2 separate regions of the Homo sapiens genome follow, and region 1 is linked to region 2. The links come from fine-mapping of genetic effects on gene expression. A gene starts in region 2. The other region holds a variant in brackets. All regions are shown on one strand. Distances are between the middles of the regions.

What was found. PIP is the estimated chance that this variant, and not a neighbour inherited with it, causes the effect.
Region 1: its variant is the best candidate, but not a certain one, in a credible set for the expression of SETX in whole blood (TOPMed, PIP 0.85).

Annotation. Positions count from the first base shown.
Region 1 is chr9:132,269,856-132,272,643 of GRCh38, reverse strand. It overlaps SETX (senataxin), which reads left to right. Exons shown (of 26, transcript NM_015046.7): 24 at 836-934. Among named protein-coding and RNA genes, the nearest start is that of SETX, 84 kb to the left of the region's middle. RefSeq lists a silencer at 2,714-2,788 and enhancers at 1,989-2,788, 2,093-2,788. The variant G/C (reference allele first, on the strand shown) is at 1,264.
Region 2 is chr9:132,353,595-132,356,382 of GRCh38, reverse strand. It overlaps SETX (senataxin), which reads left to right and starts at 1,397. Exons shown (of 26, transcript NM_015046.7): 1 at 1,397-1,466; 2 at 2,628-2,734. RefSeq lists silencers at 1,098-1,487, 1,538-1,747 and enhancers at 1,132-1,631, 613-1,812, 1,632-2,133.

The DNA.
Region 1 (2,788 bases), 84 kb after region 2:
GCTAACCTCCAAGAAAATGTTTTTAAAATGTCTTAGCAGCCGAGCATGGTGGTGCATGCATCTCCTTGGGAGGCTGAGGCAAGGAGGATTGCTTGAGCCCCAGAAGTTTGAGTCCAGCCTGGGCAACGCAGTGAGACTCTGTCTCTCTCTCTCTCTCTTTTTTTTTTTAAGTTTCTTTAAAAATAAAGACTGTAAGGCCAGGCATGGTGGCTCACATCTATAATCCTAACATTTTGGGTGGGTGAGGTGGAAGGATTGCTTGGGGCCAGGGGTTTGAGACCAGCCTGGGCAACATGGCAAGACCCCATCTCTACAAAACATGGAAAAATTAGGGTGGTGGTCCATGCCTGTAGTCCTAGCCACTTAGGAGGCTGAGACGGAGCTCAGGTGTTCAAGTTACTGTGAGCTATGAATATGCTGGTGCACTCCAGCCTGGACAAGAGTGAGGCTAGACTGTCAAAAACCAAAAAACTAAGCCGGACGCGGTGGCTCACGCCTGTAATCCCAGCACTTTGGGAGGCCGAGGCGGGCGGATCATGAGGTCAGGAGATGGAGACCACAGTGAAACCCAGTCTCTACTAAAAATACAAAAAATTAGCTGGGCATGGTGGCGGGCACCTGTAGTCCCAGCTACTCAGGAGGCTGAGGCAGGAGAATGGCGTGAACCCGGGAGGCAGAGCTTGCAGTGAACTGAGATCGCGCCACTGCACTCCAGCCTGGGCGACAGAGTGAGACTCCGTCTCAAAAAAAAAAAACCAAAAAACTAGTTTATAAATATGTATACTTAATAATTATCTTCCTTTTTCCAGTAAATATGTTTCTCTTTTGTAAATAGACCAGCAGAAGTAGACACTGTGGATGCATTCCAGGGTCGGCAGAAGGATTGTGTTATTGTTACGTGTGTCAGAGCAAATAGCATCCAAGGTTCAATTGGGTGAGTTACTGTCATTGTTGCTCTTTTATACTTGTATACATTGTTGCTTGTTTATAGTTCAGGATTAGGTTCATTATCACTGTTAGAGAACACCATTTGCTTTTTTAATTTTCTTTTGTGAAAACCTGTGTAATACTATGAAAGTTTCTCTTTTAAGTTGTGAAATAGACCCACTGTTAGATCTTGGTGCAATCTTGGCCCACTGCATCCTCCACCTCCTGGGTTCAAGCGATTCTTCTGCATCAGCCTCCCGAGTAGCTGGGACTACAGGCATGTGCTACCACGCCCAGCTAATTTTTGTATTTTTCTGTAGAGACAGTGTTTTGCCA[G/C]GTTGCCCAGGCTGGTCTCAAACTCCTGAGCTCAAGTGCTCCACCCACTTTGGCCTCCCAAAATGCTGGGATTACAGGCGTGAGTCACTGCGCCCGGCCTTGGTGTCTTTTATATTAACCCATTTCATAGTGTGAATCTGTTCTTTTATTTAATAAGATTCAAATAAATAATTAGATTATACTTTGCAGAGGCATATTACTCCCCATGGTATGTGTCAAAGTGTCATTGTTTTCTGTGTTTTCCTGCTTTGGCTAAATTTGTTCACCTTAACTACTGTCAGTTTATTTAAGATGCTAAGGACACCTGTATGAGTGACAGAAAATATCCCAAGCCCAAGACTCTTACATGATTATTTGTTTCTTGTCATGAGAAGCAGACAGAATTTACAGGTTATAAATTAGTTCGTTTTCAAATAAAATAGTAATTAAAGTAATCTTTGCCCCTCCCTGGGATGGGCTGCATATACAGAGCCCAGTTGTATCTCAGGGTCAGTTTATAAATAGACCTTTCTTTCCCAGCTAATTTGAAATTTCACTTTTATCATACATCAATTCTATTTCTGAGCTCTTTTTCTGATCTACTGAAATATTTATCTGGTGTTCATGTATTTCTACACTAGTTCTACAATATCTTAACAGTCTAGATATATTTAAATGTAAGAATAAAGTGATTAGGCTGGTACCACATTTTTAGGATTTTTCAAGGCTTCAAGATTGCACTGTTAAAATTTCCAATTATCTTATCCAGGTAAAAATAGGAAATTGATAGATGCATCACTTTGAAGGAAGCCCCGAGGTTTTGGTTTGTTTCCTGTTTTTAATAGGAATTCTTCTGTGCCCGGTACCCTGTATTGGGACGGAGAGTAAGAAAGCACTGTGACTTCTAGAGGAGTGAAGGAGTCCCGGAAAAGCTGCCTGCAGTCCACCTGTGTCTCACATGGGCATGCTGAGTCATTCTAGAGTTCACCTGTGTCTCACTGGCATGCTGAGTCATTCTAGAGTCCATCTGTGTCTCACATGGGCATGCTGAGTCTAGAGTCCACCTGTGTCTCACACGGGCACGCTGAGTCATTCTAGAGTCTACCTGTGTCTCACATGGGCACGCTGAGTCATTCTAGAGTCCACCTGTGTCTCACATGGGCATACTGAGTCATTGTAGAGTCCACCTGTGTCTCACATGGGCACGCTGAGTCATTCTAGAGTCCACCTGTGTCTCACATGAGGATGCTGAGTCATTCTAGAGTCCACCTGTGTCTCACACGGGCACGCTGAGTCATTCTAGAGTCCACCTGTGTCTCACATGAGGATGCTGAGTCATTCTAGAGTCCACCTGTGTCTCACACGGGCACGCTGAGTCATTCTAGAGTCCACCTGTGTCTCACATGAGGATGCTGAGTCATTCTAGAGTCCACCTGTGTCTCACACGGGCACGCTGAGTCATTCTAGAGTCCACCTGTGTCTCACATGAGGATGCTGAGTCATTCTAGAATCCACCTGTGTCTCACACGGGCACGCTGAGTCATTC
Region 2 (2,788 bases):
TAAAAACATGAACATTAGCCGGGCGTGTGGCACACGCCTGTACTCCCAGCTACTCGGGAGGCTGATGCAGGAGAATCATTTGAACCCAGGAGGCGGAGGTTGCAGTGAGCCGAGACTGCGCCACTGCACTTCAGCTTGGGTGACAGAGCGCGACTCCATCTCAAAAACAAAAAAGGGGGGGGATAGGCTTTCCAGTGGATTTTACTCATTTTTATTTATTTATAGACTTTTCTGAGACAGGGTCTTGCTTTGTTCCCCAGCCTGGAGTGTAGTGGCACAGTCACGGCTCACTGCAGTCTCGATCTCCCGGTCTCAATGGATATCCACCCCCTGCCTCAGCCTCCCAACAAGCTGGGCCCACAGGTGCTAATTTTTTTTTTTTTTTTTTTTTTTCCGGAGAGAGAGTCTCGCTCCTTTGCCCAGGCTGGAGTGCAGTGGTGCGATCTCGGCTCACTGCAACCTCTGCCTCCCGGGTTCAAGCCATTCTCATGCCTCAGCCTCCTGAGTAGCTGGGATTACAGGCACCCGCCACCACGCCCAGGTAATCTTTTTATTTTTAGTAGAGACGGAGTTTCACCATGTTGGTCAGGCTGGTCTCGAACTCCTGACCTCAGGTGATCCACCCGCCTCGGCCTCCCAAAGTGCTGGGATTACAGGCGTGAGCCACCGCGCCCGGCCTCGGTGGCTGAGTTTTAATTTTTTTTTGTACATACGGGTGTCTCGCTATGTTGCACAGGCTGGTCTCTGAACTCCGGGCTCAAGCGAGCCTCCCGCCTGGGCCTCCCAAAGTGGTGGGATTAGAAGCGGGAGCCACCGCACCAGCGAGGGATTTACTCTGCTGTGTTGCGCATCGCGCGCATTGTTCGCAAGACCTAAGGTCTCCCTTTCTTGTAATATAAAGGATATACACATATTCCTCCGAAATTACACGTTTATGTAATTTACATTTCAGGTCTTTAAAGGAAATCTAAAGAGAAAAATTACTTCGTCACCGTAGTACATCCGCTGAGACACCTGAGGCGTGGAAAAAAGAAGAAAAAAGAGGGAACGGAAATGGCCAGCGGGTAAGGGCTGACCCCACCCGCAGCAGAGCTCATCCCGGAGCCGCCCCACCCGCAGGAAGCCCCGGGCGGGGCCGAGGTCAAGGTTCCGCGGCAAACTCTCCCCGTCCACCCTGACGGGGACTCGGGATTGGTCGGGCCCCAGCTGCCCGGACGTGACGCCAGCGCCCGGCGTGGGCGGTGCACCGCGGCCGCTCTTCCCATGCCCCGCCCCCTGGGGGGCACCAAAACCAGAAAGCAGCGGCCGGGGCGGGGCCTGCGGCCGGCCGACTCAGCGCGGGGGCGGGGCCTACCTCGCGGCAACAGCTGGTTGGTAGCTGCGGCTGCGGGCCCGCACTTCCGCTGGTGGCCTAGAGCGGGGCCCGGTATGGAGGTGGGCTAGAGGCCGACGCCAGCCAGAGAGCGGTGAGGGTAGCGGCGGGCTGGAGGCCGTAGGTCGGGCGGGCGTGAGCGCAGGCGCGGCTTGTGCTTGCAGGGCCGCTTCGGGGAACCATCGCGGCGCCTAGGTCCCGGTGGGCGGATGGGGGAAGAGTCGGCGCGGGCTCGGCCGCTTCCCTCGGTGCGGGGGCGGGAGCACCCCTCGACGGCTGGCGGCCGCCTGTTGCCTTCCTGCGCGCTGGACCCGGCCGCTGCGACCCCCTGTCCTTCCGTTGTCTACACTGCGGTCTCGTGTGAGCTGTTTTTGGTGTGGATACTGCGTAGTTTCCTTGGGGCTGAGCGGGAGGTCTCGGGGTGGAAAGTGTCGGTTCCCTCCACACGCTCGTCTGCCTCTCGCCTGGAGTCCCTCCCTTTGTTTTTTTTTCTTTTTTCTTTTTTTTTTTTTTTTGAGACGGGGTCTCGCTCTGTCACCCAGGCTGAAGTGCAGTGGAACAGTCACGGCTCGCAGCAACCTCGTCTTCCTGGGCTCCAGCGATCCTTCCGCCTCATCCCCCCGAGTAACTGGGACCATAGGCGCGCGTCACCACGCCCGGCTAATTAAAAACAAAATGTGTTGCAGAGACAGGGCCTGGCTGTGTTTCCCAGGCTGAGCTCAGCTGCTCCAGGGATCCTCCGAGCCGCCGCGCCCGGCCGGTCCCTTCGTTTGGAGGAGAGTCTGTTTCTCCCACTTGGAGGGGCTGGAGCTTTTGCTGCTGGCCACAGGACTTTGTCCGTCCTCCCCAACTTCTGGGGATCTAAGGATGTGCCCAGCAATTTGCACGACCCAAGTGAAACGGGGGTGACTGCCTTGAGGGAAAAGAGCTCCACAAGGAGAAGGCCGAGTGTGGTATTTGATAAGTGACACAGCTGAGGATCCTAGGATTGATGTTACCTGCGCGGGCTAATAACTTGGGGGATTTTTGGCTCGGTGCCTAGCTGTCCCCGTGAGTGGGGACAGCCCCTTGTGGAACTGGGAGTCAGAATTGCAGTTCTGCTGTTTCCTGGAAGTCCACAGCCAAGTTGTCTAACCTATCTGGGCTTCCTCATCAGCCAGCAGTATCTGTCTGTAATAGGATCGATACCAGGCTCAGATGGGATATAGAGTATAAATGCCACTTACCAATTTCGTTTTTTGTTTTTTAATTTCAGAAATGTTCTTTTGGGGCCAGAGTCTGGGCATATATGAATGCAAATCCGTGTTTGTTCACAACTAAGCCCAGCTGAGACGATCACTTTTCTGTAGGCCATTTGTCCAGGTAATAATTTTTTTTTTTAGCAGGAGTTCAGAGCACCAAGGTAAGTGCAATGAT